4 linked regions of the Homo sapiens genome follow. The protein of the gene in region 3 purifies or fractionates together with the protein of the main gene of each other region. This does not show direct contact. Each region holds a gene or a part of one and is shown on either strand. Other genes may lie near its edges.

Region 1 (3,500 bases), on a different chromosome or scaffold from region 3:
TTCTTTGTAGGTGCTCTAATGAGGTATTCTGCTACTAGCCAATCTCCTTTGCCCCTATTGCAGACTGGGATCCTGTTTTCCACGCTATCTTTGGAAGGGTGACTGAGAATGAATTTGCTTCCTATGGGTCTCAGCTCAAAGGTCACCTTCTAAGGGATACTACCCTAATGGCCCCATTAAGAATTACAGCACCCCACCTTCAGCACTTCCTCTCTGCCGTCCCTGCTTTATTTTTCTCTGCAGCCCCTATGATCATCTGAACTGACTTCTTTAATGTCGTTTCATGATGGCAGGAAGTGTGTGAATATGCATTCCTGTTTTGTTCACTGCTGTATCAAGGACAGTGCCTGGCATGTGGTGGCACTCAATAAATGTTTATTGGAATGAATAAACTTTAATATAATTGAGTGTCCACAGTGTTTTTACCTGCAGAGGTGTCATTCCCAGCTCATGTCCACTTCTTCCCTGAGCAATTTTGGATAAATCATTTACAAGGCGCTCAAAAATGTTAGCAGCATTTAAATCACAGTCGTAGTTGACATAAATATCCACAACACACTGGGCATCTTGGAAAATAACATACAAGTATCAGAAATTCTGATCAAATAGCAGTTAGGTTTTCTTATCAAACAAGATGTTTGCCAACAAATTTCCCCAGTGAACTACAGACTCCGGTGGCCACATCTCACTCAGGAAACACATGTTGGAAGTACTAGGAAGCTGGAAGACAGGAGGTTGTTTTTAGGCCTGCTTCTGAGCAAATTGAAATCTCAGGCAGTTCATTCCACCCATCCAAGCCTCAATTTTCTCATCAAGGAAGGGGTTAACAATTGCCTGACCCACCTCTTAAAGTTGTGTCACTCTTACAAAATTACATTTGATGCCAGACAAGCAGGATGCTTACTTTGAGGCCACACAATTGTATAGTGTAAGGTAAATCCACATTTACCGTAGCACCCAATCAAAAATTGGCAGCACCAGTATCTTAGGTCCTGTGATTAACAGTACTCAGCTTGTAGGTAACGTAACCAAGTGTCCCAGTTTGACGAGATTAGGGGGTTTCTGGGACATGAGACTTTTAGTGCTAAAACCAGGAAGTCCTTGGCAAACCAGCCTAAGTTGGTCATCCTCTAAAAAAGGAGAGGTGGGGCAGGACTAGGTTAGAATTAGCCTTTTATTGCCAATCCTTTAAAACTCTAAAAGGAGGGGTTAGAAGTCTTAATCTGAGCTGTGGCAAATTAAAGCATCAGAAGTCCAGTGGATGAGTGTCCCCAGGTGGAAATACCTGCACAGATCCTCGTCAGAGTCTGAATGACCATCCACCTGTGCTCAAAAGAACTTGTTGATGTTTCTAAAATGTTCAGGAAAATCTCTTTGAAAAAGACCTATATGACATAAAGACAAAGGAGGACACTAATTAACAGTTTCAACCAGGGCTCAAAACCTCCAAAGTCTTCAGCAGCCAACCCAGTCGTGCAGTAAGTAAAGCACCCTGGGCAGAAGAAGAGTGGAGTGCCCACCTGGCTGGGCAGCAACGGGACCCTGGCCTTGGTGGGGACGGCTGGCAGGGTGGGGCCCACTGGGGAGCTGCCAAGTGGAAATGCAGGACCCATACTGTGACTTTTTGGAGAGAAACCAGAAATCTGGATTTTCATGTAAAATAGGATTTCTCAATTTGGCGACTAATCTAAATGATTTCAAACAATTTACAGACCAAACAGATATGTTTAGGGGGCTGAGCCCAGCAGACAGACCATATTGGTTAAAATGAAAGGCACATAAGATCCGGGGGCAGTAACTTTTTTTTTTTGAGATGGAGTCTCGCCCTGTTGCCCAGGCTGGAGTGCAGTGGTGCAATCTTGGCTCACTGCAAGCTCCGCCTCCCGGGTTCATGCCATTCTCCTGCCTCAGCCTCCCGAGTAGCTGGGACTACAGGCGCCTGCCACCACGCCTGGCTAATTTTTTGTATTTTTAGTAGAGACGGGGTTTCACCATGTTAGCCAGGATGGTCTCGATCTCCTGACCTCATGATCCGCCCGCCTCAGCTTCCCAAAGTGCTGGGATTACAGGCGTGAGCCATGGCGCCCAGGCTGGGGGCAGTAACTTTTTATAAAAAGATATTCTCTTACTCATTCAAAAAGTTCTGATTTACTGGGGTGCCAGCCGATGAATATGCCATTTACCCTCCCTGCCCCTGCCCACTTCTGAGTTCCAGGATGGTAAGATATGAAACATTTTCATGAACCATTTTCCTAATGCTTAGTGTAATATTAGCAGCATTCTCAATATTGAGTATTATAATTAATGACTAATAATAATAGTAAATAATGAAATGAAAAAACTTTGGAATCCGTACCTCTATCTGCATTTTCAAGTGCATTTTAAAGTTTGAAAGAAGAGTAAGAAAAATGGCAAGAGAGAGCTCAAAGACATCAGGCACTGAAGAGACGCCGTTTTTGGACAAGGCCACACAGAGATATTGCTTGATTGCATTGATGAACATCTCGTGAGTCCTGAATACGGGGCCAGCATTTTGCAACACAGAGAGGAGCAGCTGCAGGGAAACCACCTTGGAACGCAGCTCATGGGATCTGGCAAAGAAAATGAAAAACCACAACAGTGCTAAAAGAAAAAATGTCAAACAGTATGTTTCTTGAGAAGGCCTTGCTCCTTTACCAATGAGTAGAATTTTAAAGAATTAATAGCACCTAAATGTCAGGAGAATGAGGGCAGATGGCATGAGTTGGGTCCTTCTGGAATCGCAGGCCCTTTGAGAACAAGAGCTGCCAACTCCTATTTGTCTCTTTCCATCACAAAGTAGAGAATACAGCAGGAGCAAAGTGTCAACTGATTCTGGAGAGCGAGTTCTGCAACTGTACTGCAAGAATCAATGACTTTACATCACTTGTGGGAGGCTGAGACACCTGGCTCACTCTGTTTCACACACCATGAAGATGGCGCTCTTTATCCACCTACCTCACAGCCCTCCCTCCCCACTGCCCATGCCGGAGTTCAGGTATGGTAAGAAATGGTACATTTTCATGAACTATTTTCTTAACACTTATTTTTATTTTATTTTATTTATTTATTTATTTTTTTGAGACGGAGTTTTGCTCTTTTTGTCCAGGCTGGAGTGCAATGGCACAAATCTCGGCTCACTGCAACCTCCGTCTCCTGGGTTCAAGCGATTCTCCTGCCTCAGCCTCCAGAGTAGCTGGGATTACAGGCGCCTGCCACCATGCCCGGCTAATTTTTTGTATTTTTAGTAGAGATGGGGTTTCACCATGTTGGCCAGGATGGTCTCGATCTCTTGACCTCATGATCCGCCCGCCTCGGCCTCCCAAAGTGCTGGGATTACAGGCGTGAGCTACCGCGCCCGGCCTATTTTTATTTTTTAAAATTTATTGTTGCTCTGTTGCCCAGGCTAGAGTTCAGTGACACGATCTCAGCTCACTGCAACCTCTGCCTCCTGGGTTCAAGCGATTCTCTTGCCTCAGCTT
Region 2 (3,500 bases), on a different chromosome or scaffold from region 3:
GTGTGAGCCACCGCGCCCGGCTACTAAACGAAATATTAAAGAGACTGTCCTCTAGTATAGAATTTGGTAGTCAGTGTTTGATAGACTTAGTATTCTGTGTTGGCAATAGATTTAAGAGTTTTCTGGAATGTATGTAATGCATTCAGTTCTACTCATCCTATGTGTTTATTGTAGCTAATTAAGAAAATACCATTCAGTATTTACCATTTTTCCTCTCTGCTGAGCCGATCTGGTTTCACGTAGGCTAAATACATTTCCACACACCGATATTTCTCTCCATATTCCAGGCTTGGAGTCTTCTGTGAACCCATTGCGTGGATGCATCACAAGAACACCATTAGTGGTCAAGCCATCCATCTGTCCATCTGATGTCTTCCATTTGGCAGCCTTCTCCTAGTAGAAATAATAGCAGTGAGCTTCCAACTTGTAACTTGTAACTTGGAATGAAAGCTAGTATAAAAGAAAGCATCATTTAGAAAAAAAGCTTTTTACCCCAAGAAAGATGTTTTTTGATGAGTCAAATCCTGCAGCATAAATCCGTGCTGTAAAGGGAGGATTCCGTTCACATATGATTCTGCAGGCAAATCTTGATATAGTGCTTTGTACTGACTGTGTATCAGAATTACTTTGACTTCCAGGAACCGTGTCAGTTACTACAAAATCAATGGGGCTTTCAGTCGACCGGCCAATCTGAGGGAAAAAAAAAAATACCTATAAACCCATTCAAAGAGCACAGTGGAAAATCCATTCAAGAAGGGCACAATAAGGAGAGAACATTAGGTCTCTGAAATTTCTAAAGTTGAAGTTTACCATACTTAACGCTGGGGGCATCTATACTCTTGAAAACTAATCAGTCAGACTGTCTCTGATGAAGTAATCACTTAGAGCATGGAATTAAATGAGAACTTACAATAATATACGAAACCCTTAGGGAATGAAGAATTCAGGAACGGCTGAGATTTCTAGATGGCTGCAGATTTTAATTTTAACCCTTTTGGATGGAAATATGTGTATCATGTAGTTTTTTTCTCTTTAGAGATATTTAAAGAGATATTCTACCTTATTTAACAGAATATAGTGAACATATATAAGTAAATCTTTTAGGATGACTGCAGAACATTACACTATAAATACCACTTACGTTAAGCTGAAATGCAGTGATGTCTTCAGGTGCTACAAGAGGTATACAAGGCTGCTGGTCCTTATGTCAAGGGCTTACACAGCCTTGCTTTGAGGTCTTATGTATACTTCATATATTTTCTTGTTTCTTTTCTGTCAGGTTGTCAGCTATCACTCCTTGTTTTTGGTCATGCTTGTTTCCAGCAACAAGCCCCTCTTTTAACTGGCTACTCTTACTCTGTTATGGGTTGAGAAATCAAATAACCTATTTCAGAGAAAAGTATTTCAAAAGGTTCTGGTGAGAGCCTAAGGGATCCTCTAGGGAGAATAGAAAAGGAATTTCACTACATCAACTTTGTGGCATTTATTTTATATATATACTCTTCCTGGTTCTTAGGGATATTTCAGAGAGACAAGGTTCCCAGATAAGAGTTCTGGATGAGTGAGGTGTCAGAGATTTAAAAATATCTTCAGAGGTACTAGCTAGTAAATAAGTTAATTTCATTTTGAAAGTTGAAAGAAAAAAGGAAATCAATGGGGAGATGACAAAAGTGACAAGTGTCACGGGGCTTTAAAGCAAACATTTGGAAATTATCAGTTCATGAATGTATTTGTTATAAAGTAGTACCATAAAATTGAAGAATGTGGGTACTGAGAAAAAATACTGACCCTCTACAAAGATAAAGACTCTTAAAAGTCATTCTTTACATATTTTAGCCTCAAGTTCCTCATATCGGCACACTTTCAGATAAACCTCTTTAGTGTTTTTGTCCAACTGTCAAGTATAAAGTCTTTTTATTTAGATTGGATAGTTTTAGAGGGAAACTAGTTAACAAATATAAGATTGGATATTCCTTTTCTTTATTCTTAAAAATAAAGATACCTTAAATGGCCTCAGATCTTTGAAACAAAAAATATTCCCCCAAATAAAAAGGCTCTTTAAAAGCTAAAAGATATAGGCCAAGGATTGAACTAATATTCAGAATCAACAGAAGTAGCACTTATTTGGAAAGAGACTGTTCCAGAGAGCTGACATTTCAACTGGGTCTTGGAAGAGAATATTTAAGACACTGAAGCAATATTTGTAATGACAATGAGAAGGAAGAAACTTAAGTATCTATAAAGAGAAAAAAACCACCATGAATGTGATCAGATGCCAAAATATGATTGTTAATAATTCTTCCCCTGCTATTATTAGCATTAAAAATACAGCTCTTTTGTTACTCTCCCTTACCCTCATGAGAAAACTCAATGGTTCCTTATAGCTTATCCAAAATTTGTAGTTTATTATTTCTGATAATAGTTAGAAACTGACTCAAGATTTGCCTCCCATCTACCAATCCAGCCGAATTTCCTGCTATTTGTGTATACAAGCTACAACAGCTTATTCGTCAATCTTTCACCACACTGTGTACTACTTCTTTGCTTCTTTGCCATCTCTTTTGCTAGAATGCTTTTCTACCGGTTGCTGGCAAAAATCCTACTTAACCTGATAAAAAGATCTACATGAAAAGGCACCAGTGTAAAGTCTTTTCTCCATCCTTCTTCAACACAATCAATGTGCTTAAGATTTACAGGGTCAGTACAGCACCTAGGCATGTAATCAGCTTGTAATGTCTCCCTTATGTACTTCATAGTGACAAACAAGGCATAGAGTTGGAGTTGGAATATCTGATGACTTGAACAATAAATGTTCTTGTTCAGTTTACAGGGTAGACAATCCTAGAATGTTTCCAGTACAATTCCTCAAAGACTGGCTAGTTTATCAAGGTAGTTTCTGATACATCACAGTCTTTTTGATGCAGAAATGTTTGGATTTTCCAAAGGTATAATACCTGTAGAAAGGGCATAATCAGTTTATGATACTGGGGAAAATTCTCTACTTTATGAAAAAGACAAAACCCAAACTGTTAAAACTTATTCAAGGGCCTTCATTAGATGGTGAAGACATTGTTTCAGAATTCAGGATGCCTGGTTTAATTTCAGTTTTGCCCCCAAGTAACTCTATCATCTTTAACTCACAAGATTTCAGTTAACCTCATCTACAAAAGATAAGCGGTAAACAAATAAATATAACGTACTTTCTGAAGCTAAAATTCTAGCCTGTGACCAAATATCTTGGAGATACACACACACACACACACACACACACACACACACACATATATATTTATCTATATTTTATTAAAGAGACGAAGTCTCACTATGTTGCCCAGGCTGGCCTCAAGCTATCCTCCCACCTCAGCCCCCTGAGTAACTGAGACTACAGGCCTAGTAGCATCTTGATTTTAAAAAAAAGCTAAGCTCATTCATTTTCACTGCTTGTCAGTGAAACAAAATGTGAAAAATCATCCTAAAGCTTTGTGTTCGGTTTTTCTTGG
Region 3 (3,998 bases):
GTCCCCTGAGTAGCTGGGACTACAGACGTGCACCACCGTGCCCAGCTAATGTTTGTATTTTTAGTAGAGATGAGGTTTTACCATGTTGCCAGGCTGGTCTCAAACTCCTGGCCTCAAGTGATCCTCCCTCCTTGGCCTCCCAAAGTGCTGGGATTACAGGCGTGAGCCACCACCCCCGGCCCCCAGTTGGAAATTTAGACTTAAGGAGCTGAGGTGGACACTGGGAGCACACTGGGCAGGCCCAGGACAGGCAGAATAAGGGGGTGGGACCACCTTGCCTGCCTCCTGAATGGCCCAGAAAATAGAGAAAAGGAGGGAGAAGTGGTCTGCACTGGTGCAATGAGATCCAACTTCAGAATCAAACAGGCCAGAGTTTGGGGCTCTGCTCTTACCAGTTCCATGACCTGGGAGACATGTGTTCACCTCTCCAGGCCTCAGTTTCCCCATCTGATGGGGATATCAATATCTCCCATTTGTATAGAGGGCAATCTAGCAATTTAAAGTGTGGGTCCTGGAGTTAGAATAGCCCGGTTCATGTTCCAGTTCTTCCCTGCCGCTTGCTGACCTCATGGCCTAGGAATGTTCTCTGTCCCAATGAATTATAACCAACACTGAGAGTGTCCTGTGTGCCAGGTCCTGTTCCAAAGAGCGTGCTTATCTCCTTTAATCCCCACCACACTATTCTCATTCCTGTTTTACAAATGAGGCTCAAAGGGATATGGTGATTTTCCCAAGTCACACTGTATGTAACAGAGCCAGGATGCAAACCTTCTCCTGCCGTGCCTCTCAGAGCTATGGAATACAACGCTGTGACGCAAACAGGACTTTGGGGCCAGTCTCCAAATGCCCCCTCAAATTTCCTCTAGGCAAGAGTTCTGGAGCCGCCACTGCACTCCAGCCGGCCTTGGCTTCTGAGCTTTGGATTCTGGGCAGTAATGGTCACATTCCCAGCGTCCTGGAAAAGCTTGCCCTTGGCTTCTGGCCCTGACTCTGCCTCCCACTGACTAGTGGACGTCACTGCCCCTCTCTGGGCCTGGCAACACCATCCTGTTCAATGAGGCTGCGGCTGGATCAGAGGTCCCCAGGCCTGGAACCTTCCAGGGCTGGGCTCAGCTCCCCACCCCATCCCCCAGGTAGGCCAGGAGGCCTGGGCGGGACCTGCTTGGGGTTAAATACTCCGGCCCAGCACTCCCCAGGCCTCTAGTCCCAGTAGGAGGTTTGACTAAGATCAATCATGGTAAGTGCCATGGCCATCTCCCCTTGGGTGGGACATCTTCAGTAACGCTTCCAGAAGCACCTTGTGTTGGAACCTCCAAGTCTCACTGTCCTTCTTTTTCTCCTTAGACGACTTACAGTGACAAAGGGGCAAAGGTAAGCAGGCGAAATGTGGGAAATGTAGGGGCCTGAGTCTAGAAGGGGGTCGGAGTGCAGGGAGACTGGGGTTTCAGCAGAGAGCAGAAGAGGAAGGACTGGAGTGGATACATGACGTGCATGCCTGCACACTCAGCTTTACCCCCGGGGCTCCCCGAGACTGAGCTGGACTCAACCTCACCCTCACAACAAACTTGTATCCTGGCCGGGCATGGTGGCTCATGCCTGTAATCCCAGTGCTTTGGGAGGCCAAGGCAGGCAAATACTTGAGGTCAGGAGTTCGAGACCAGCCTGGTCAACATGAGGAAACCCCGTCTCTACTAAAAATACGAAAATTAGCCGGGCATGGTAGCGCACCCCTGTAATCCCAGCTACTCAGGAGGCTAAGGTGGGGGAGATCACTTGAACCCTAGGATCGCTTGAACCTGGGAGGCGGAAGTTGCAGTGAGCCAAGATTGCACCACTGCACTCCACTCCAGCCTGGGCAATAGAGCAAAACTCCATCTCAGAAACAAAAACCAAAACAAAACCTGTACCCCTTCTCAAATGCCTGCCAATCTTTTAATCCCATCTGGAAGTTCTTTCTAAGGTCTAACTTAAATCCATATTGCTGCAACATAAGTCTATTTCCCTGTGTGAAACCTTGGCAGGCCTCCTGAGGGGGTTTCCCCATCCAAGACACCCAGGAGCTCAACTTCCACATGAGAAACCTCTTTTGAGGCTTGGCAAGGCTGCATGGGGTTCCGCTGCTCCTAAGTTCTGTGGTTGAGGCTGGAATAAGGAGGGTGGCTAGGGGACATCACTCCACCCGCACTTTTCTAGACTCACTTTCAGGGACTCAACCTCACCTCTTCTCTCCTTCTGCAGCCTGAGAGAGGCCGATTCCTCCACTTCCACTCTGTGACCTTCTGGGTTGGCAACGCCAAGCAGGTAGAAGCCGGGGCAAGGTGCTGGAGTGAGCAGACGGCAGGGCAGAGGGCTGCCTGACAAGGGCAGGCCTCCAGCAGGGTCTGTGATTGGCCCTTGGGAGGGAGGATCAGGCCAGGGGTGGGCCAGATACTCTGAATCCTAATTACACCAGCGGGAAAGTTATCTGTCAGCAAAATGTGCAGGCAGCAGTCTATCTTCCCAGGAGGGTCTCTGCCCCTGAGGCAATAGGGCAGGCAGGCTGAGGGGGGCCAGGGGCTCTCTTGCGGAAGTCCCCCATGCTGGCCCCTTGACCCTCATGAACCCTGCTGCAACCCTGTGATTCAGGCCACGTCATTCTACTGCAGCAAGATGGGCTTTGAACCTCTAGCCTACAGGGGCCTGGAGACCGGTTCCCGGGAGGTGGTCAGCCATGTAATCAAACAAGGGAAGGTGAGTCACCACCCCCAGGACAGCCCCCAACCCCTGCCTGGCCAACATGGTGAAACCCCATCTCTATTAAAAATAGAAAAATTAGCTGGGCATGATGGTGGGCACCTGTAATCCCAGCTACTCAGGAGGCTGAGGCAGGCACATCGCTTGAACCCGGGAGGCAGAGGTTGCAGTGAGCCAACGTCGTGCCACTGCACTCCAGCCTGGGCGACAGAGCAAGACTCCATCTCAACAAAAAAAAACAAAAAACAACAAAAAACCCCAACAACAACAACAAAAACATATAATTCAGCTCCCACCGACCCCTCCGCTGGCATCTTTGTACAGCCATGCAACACGGCCCTTCCTAGTTTCGTTTCCTCCTCAGCCTGGCCCAACACTGACCCCACAGGTGCTCAGAAAACCTGGGATATCAGAGGAGAGGAATTTTAAGCAGTGCCCTGACCGATGGGGTCCCTGGAGTTCTCTCCCCGAGGGAGACCTGACCTAGCAGTTCCTCTGAGGATCCAGAGGGGGTCTGGCTGAAAGCCCCATCCCTCAGGACCAGTGTGGGAAACTAAGGCAGAGAAGGAGCTAGAACCCAGGTCCAGGAGTTCTTGTGCTCCATCAGGGGTGTTTCGGGTCGGCAGGGAGGGGCCGATGGGTGCACCTCCCCATGCCCCCCTGAGCCACTAGCCTCACCTCCTTCTCCTCCTATCTTAGATTGTGTTTGTCCTCTCCTCAGCGCTCAACCCCTGGAACAAAGGTGAGGTGCCCGGGGAGGGTGGACGCATGGCTCTGTGGGTGGGATCTGGGTTCTGGGAGGGTGGACGCATGGCTCCGTGGGTGGGCTCTGGGTTCAGGGCCTGGATGGAGACTAAAAGCCAGGTGAGGGGACCTAGACTCCAGACTCCAGTGCCATCCTCTCCCTGCCGGCCACAGAGATGGGCGATCACCTGGTGAAACACGGTGACGGAGTGAAGGACATTGCGTTCGAGGTGGAAGATTGTGACTACATCGTGCAGGTAAGAAAGCACCTGGGTGGACTGAGAGAGGAAGGCCTCCGTCTGCCATGGGGACCCCATCAGTCAGGGCTGGAAGGACACTGCTGCATCACAGTGACAAGCCCAGATGCCACATCACAGTGACAAGCTCAGATGCTGCATCACAGTGACAAGCCCAGATGCTGCATCACAGTGACAAGCCCAGATGCTGGTGTGACACACACCTGGGCTCCGGGGGTGCCCTGCCTTCCCCCGTGTCCTCTCTCTCACTGAGCCTCAGTTTCC
Region 4 (3,500 bases), on a different chromosome or scaffold from region 3:
GCACAGGAGCCCTGGCCAGCCCCATCTGCATCCCACCTGCTGCCGGGCGAGAGGGCTCCCTCAGAGGCCACCGATGCAGAGAGGCACCTGGTTCTCATCATAGCCCCCACAGGCCAGGACCCCCAACCAGCACTGCCCCACGGGACGCACAGAAAGGGGCGGGCAGGACTCGGGAACACCAGGAGAGGGAAGTAGGCTTGGCAGCCAGGCCTGGGGCACCTGGGCTCCCTGTCTGCGCCTCTGTGCAGGGAGCACTGAGCCAGGCAGCCTACCCGGCCTGTCCCCACGTGCTTGTGCCCAGCCTTGACTCGGGAGGGATCGCCACTGCTCGGACGAGGGGATGGTGGAGAGGAGGGTCGGCAGACTGGGTGGCATGGAGGCTGACCAGTGCTTGGAGAGGCTCGGCCTCTGGATGGACCCCAAAAAAGAAGCCTCCCAGAGTCCACGTCGCCTCCATCTCCTACCACTGGCAAGCGTGTTCTCTGCTCTGGTCCCAGGCACCGTTTCAGCGAGGGACCCAGGGTGAATGGAGCCACCCGGTCACCAAGCTGGGGCTGGAAAGGGAAAGTGGGTCACACCGTCCCCCCAGCCAGAGCAGGGCCCGGGAAGGGCCTTTGAGGGAGGCACAGGCTGAGGGGCCTCTCCCCACCAGCACTGTCCCAGGATGTCTCAGGCTGCCCCTGCCTGGCTCCCTCGGCTGACAGGGAGAAGTGGGGGTGCCCGCCCTGCCCTGACACAGCCTGAGGGCCTGGAGCCGGCCCCTCCCTAGCTGCCGCCCAGGACACTGGGGCCCCAAATCCAGCCGCCTCTCTGCTGCCAACCCCTTGCCCCACTCAGTGTTGCCAGGAAGAGCTTCCGAAAGGAGGCCCACGTCAACCCCCACGGGGCAGCAACTCTGTAGGGGCTGCATGCACACGTGGCCCAGCGCCTGGCCGCCCCCTCCAACGAGAACAGCACCACCCTCCGGGGAACGAAGCCAAGAGAGGAGCCCTTGCAGCTCAAGACGCCCGGGAGGGAGGCGGCACCACAGCGCCTGGGAGGGAGGCGGCACCACCGTGCCCGGGAGGAAGGCGGCACCACAGTGCCTCGGCAGGGAGATGGCACCACAGAGCCCGGGAGGGAGGCAGCATCATGGTGTCTGGGAGGGAGGTGGCACCACGGTGCCCGGGAGAGAGAAGGCACCACGGTGCCTGGGCAGGGAGAGACGGGGCATCCACCCACAGAGCGGGAGTGGGGGCTGCAGGAGCCATCCTGCCTTCTGCAAGACCATTTGTCAACGAGGAACATTTCAGAGGGTCCAGGTGGGGTAGGGCCTGGTGGGTGGAAGGAAGGGGGCCTGTTGGTCCCAGAGAGGCCCCGGCAGTGGGCGACACGGCAGTGCAGGACGGGGCTGTCCTGGGTGGAAAGGAAGGACGACAGAACTGGCTAGGGGCGGGCGCCCAGCAGGCACTCAGGCCAGAAGTGCCAGTCACGCCCTGCCAGGTGAGTGGCTTGGGGAGTGGGGAACCAGGCAGCAAGGGTGGCCTGTGTCCTGGCAGACGGTCCCCAGAGGCAGCCTGAGAGCTCCAACAAACGGAGGGTGTTAGGAGCCAGGCTTGCCCTGCCAAAGCCAATGGAAGGAAGCCCAAACAGCAGAGCCTTTGAAGAGATAAGTGAGGTGACCGTGACATCAAAGGTGGGCCTAGCCCAGGGTGACCTTCCTCATGACCTGAGGACGCGGACCGCACACAGAAGTGACTGTGTGAGGACACCAGGGCAGGGCCAGCCCTGATGCCCAGGGCCAGGACGCAGGTTTCAGGCAGGGGCGGGGGGCTTTGTTCCCCACAGTGGTGCCCCCACACTGCTCACAATTCCCTGTCCTCACTCCTGGCCGCCTCCTCCCAGCCCTCCCAGAAAACCTGCACTCTCCTGGGCCAGGGCCACAGAGGGCTGCCGGGCTACCGGAGCCCCCACACCCACGCACGCTGTCCCTCTCGGAAGCCGGGGGCCGGCCCCTGGACATCCCCCAGGCAGCAGGCAGCCGGAGTGGGGCTCTGCCAGAGACGTGAAAGCTGGTGCTTCCGCGCCCGCCGCCTGCTTGCCTGCCAGGGAGGCAGGCTTCCTTCCCTCAGCCCCGCCAGCTCTCTGACGGCAGGCAGGCAGGCAGGCACGTCACCGGGGACACCACCCCGAGAGGCCCCGAGGCTAGAGCCGAGCTGATGGAGGGCAGGAGACGGTGGCTGGTAGGGAAGCCAAGCGTCCCCAGAAACAGGGCAGCAGCACCCCAGTGCTCTCAGGGGCCTCCCAGCGGGAGGGTGGGCTGCAGGCCTGGGCACTGGTCCTCCTCCATCCCAAGGCATCTTCCAAATTCAATGTTTATCAACTGGCTGGCCAGCAAGGGAGGGGATGGAGACGGAGGAAGGAGGCCCGGAGTCCGCCCGGCAGCTCGGGGGCTGAGAGGGGACTGTCTCACCCCTCCCCTGCCTCCGCTGCAGGGAATCCCGCTCAGTCCTGCTCCTGATCACCCCTGGCAGCTGCCAGCCTTCTTGCCCCAGCTCAGTAAGCGGCTGCAGCCCCAGGCAGTGAGCAAGCTTCTCACCTCCAACCCAGGCCTCTGTAGAGGCCTGTGGCCACTTAAAAAAAAACCCGCCTCTGTGGCTAATTAAAATATCTGAAGAGGCTTTGAAGAGGAAACCATTAGGCCAGAGGGCTTCGGAAGGCCCCAGGCAGCTCTCCCACAGGCCAAGGACAGGACATTCATTGCTTCTGGCTCTGGAGGGCGGCCCAGCAGGGCTGGGAACCCGGCACCCTCACCCTGGCCCCACCCTCAGGAGCCCTCAGGGAGGTGGCAGGGACCCACAGAAGCAGCGGACAGCTATGGGCACCAGGGCGTTCCTAGCAGGGACCGGGGGGCCAGCGGGAGAGGCCGGGCAGGGGGAAGGGGCAGCTGAAGCCCAAGGCGGCCGCCTCCAGCTGAGGGCCTGGTCCCTCTGGGGCTCCCTGAGCCCTGCTCCGAGGCCTGCCGGGCCCTTCCTCACCCAGACCCCTGGGCAGGGACTGCTGCCGCCTTGGCCCCAGCACAGCAGCCCAGGGGGGCCGAGACCTCCAAGCGGCCTCAGTTCAGGCAGGCCGCCTAGCAGGTCCTTTCCCACCCGGGGCCAGGCAGGAAGCAGAGGAGGCCGGAAAGCCGTGTCAGAAGCAACTTCAGAGGCGCACGGCCCCCTCGGAACCCACCGGCTCTCAAAGGCTTTATTATCCTGCCCCAGCGCCTGCCAGGCCCCTCCTTCCTGCCCGAGGCCTCACGCTCTCGTCCTGCCCTCCCTGGAGGGCCCCGCCCCGCAGCACCCCAGGGAGGCCCTCAGGTACCTGAAAGAGGGTCTGCGTGTGGTCGTCCAGGACTGTTTTTGGAGGGGTGATGACTGAGGAGAGAAGGCACCTACGTGTTAGGAAGCACCGTGGACCTCGCCCATCCATGCGCCCGAAGGAAGACAGGCCTGCAGATGGGGGTGACGCCTCAAGTG

What was found.
Region 1: the proteins of HPD (region 3) and ARFGEF2 purify together in Homo sapiens (affinity purification with mass spectrometry, with the first as the bait; one large-scale study listed by BioGRID). This does not show direct contact.
Region 2: the proteins of HPD (region 3) and PELI1 purify together in Homo sapiens (affinity purification with western blotting; one study listed by BioGRID). This does not show direct contact.
Region 4: the proteins of HPD (region 3) and ASPSCR1 purify together in Homo sapiens (affinity purification with mass spectrometry; 2 studies listed by BioGRID and IntAct, with this or other methods). This does not show direct contact.

Annotation. Positions count from the first base shown.
Region 1 is NC_000020.11:48,970,211-48,973,710, reverse strand, and holds part of ARFGEF2 (brefeldin A-inhibited guanine nucleotide-exchange protein 2), read right to left. Parts: intron 2,592-3,500; coding exon 2,357-2,591; intron 1,386-2,356; coding exon 1,286-1,385; intron 567-1,285; coding exon 427-566; intron 1-426. UniProt on the Homo sapiens protein: Promotes guanine-nucleotide exchange on ARF1 and ARF3 and to a lower extent on ARF5 and ARF6. Promotes the activation of ARF1/ARF5/ARF6 through replacement of GDP with GTP. Involved in the regulation of Golgi vesicular transport.
Region 2 is NC_000002.12:64,095,921-64,099,420, forward strand, and holds part of PELI1 (E3 ubiquitin-protein ligase pellino homolog 1), read right to left. Parts: intron 1,358-3,500; exon of another isoform or gene 1,142-1,357; intron 691-1,141; coding exon 493-690; intron 394-492; coding exon 205-393; intron 1-204. UniProt on the Homo sapiens protein: E3 ubiquitin ligase catalyzing the covalent attachment of ubiquitin moieties onto substrate proteins. Involved in the TLR and IL-1 signaling pathways via interaction with the complex containing IRAK kinases and TRAF6.
Region 3 is NC_000012.12:121,856,060-121,860,057, reverse strand, and holds the start of HPD (4-hydroxyphenylpyruvate dioxygenase), read left to right. Parts: upstream 1-1,198; 5' UTR 1,199-1,234; coding exon 1,235-1,237; intron 1,238-1,344; coding exon 1,345-1,371; intron 1,372-2,219; exon of another isoform or gene 2,220-2,238; coding exon 2,239-2,301; exon of another isoform or gene 2,302-2,439; intron 2,440-2,625; coding exon 2,626-2,730; intron 2,731-3,411; exon of another isoform or gene 3,412-3,432; coding exon 3,433-3,475; exon of another isoform or gene 3,476-3,651; coding exon 3,652-3,734; exon of another isoform or gene 3,735-3,805; intron 3,806-3,998. UniProt on the Homo sapiens protein: Catalyzes the conversion of 4-hydroxyphenylpyruvic acid to homogentisic acid, one of the steps in tyrosine catabolism.
Region 4 is NC_000017.11:82,012,129-82,015,628, reverse strand, and holds part of ASPSCR1 (tether containing UBX domain for GLUT4), read right to left. Parts: intron 3,474-3,500; coding exon of another isoform or gene 3,399-3,473; coding exon 3,346-3,398; intron 555-3,345; coding exon of another isoform or gene 273-554; intron 1-272. UniProt on the Homo sapiens protein: Tethering protein that sequesters GLUT4-containing vesicles in the cytoplasm in the absence of insulin. Modulates the amount of GLUT4 that is available at the cell surface. Enhances VCP methylation catalyzed by VCPKMT.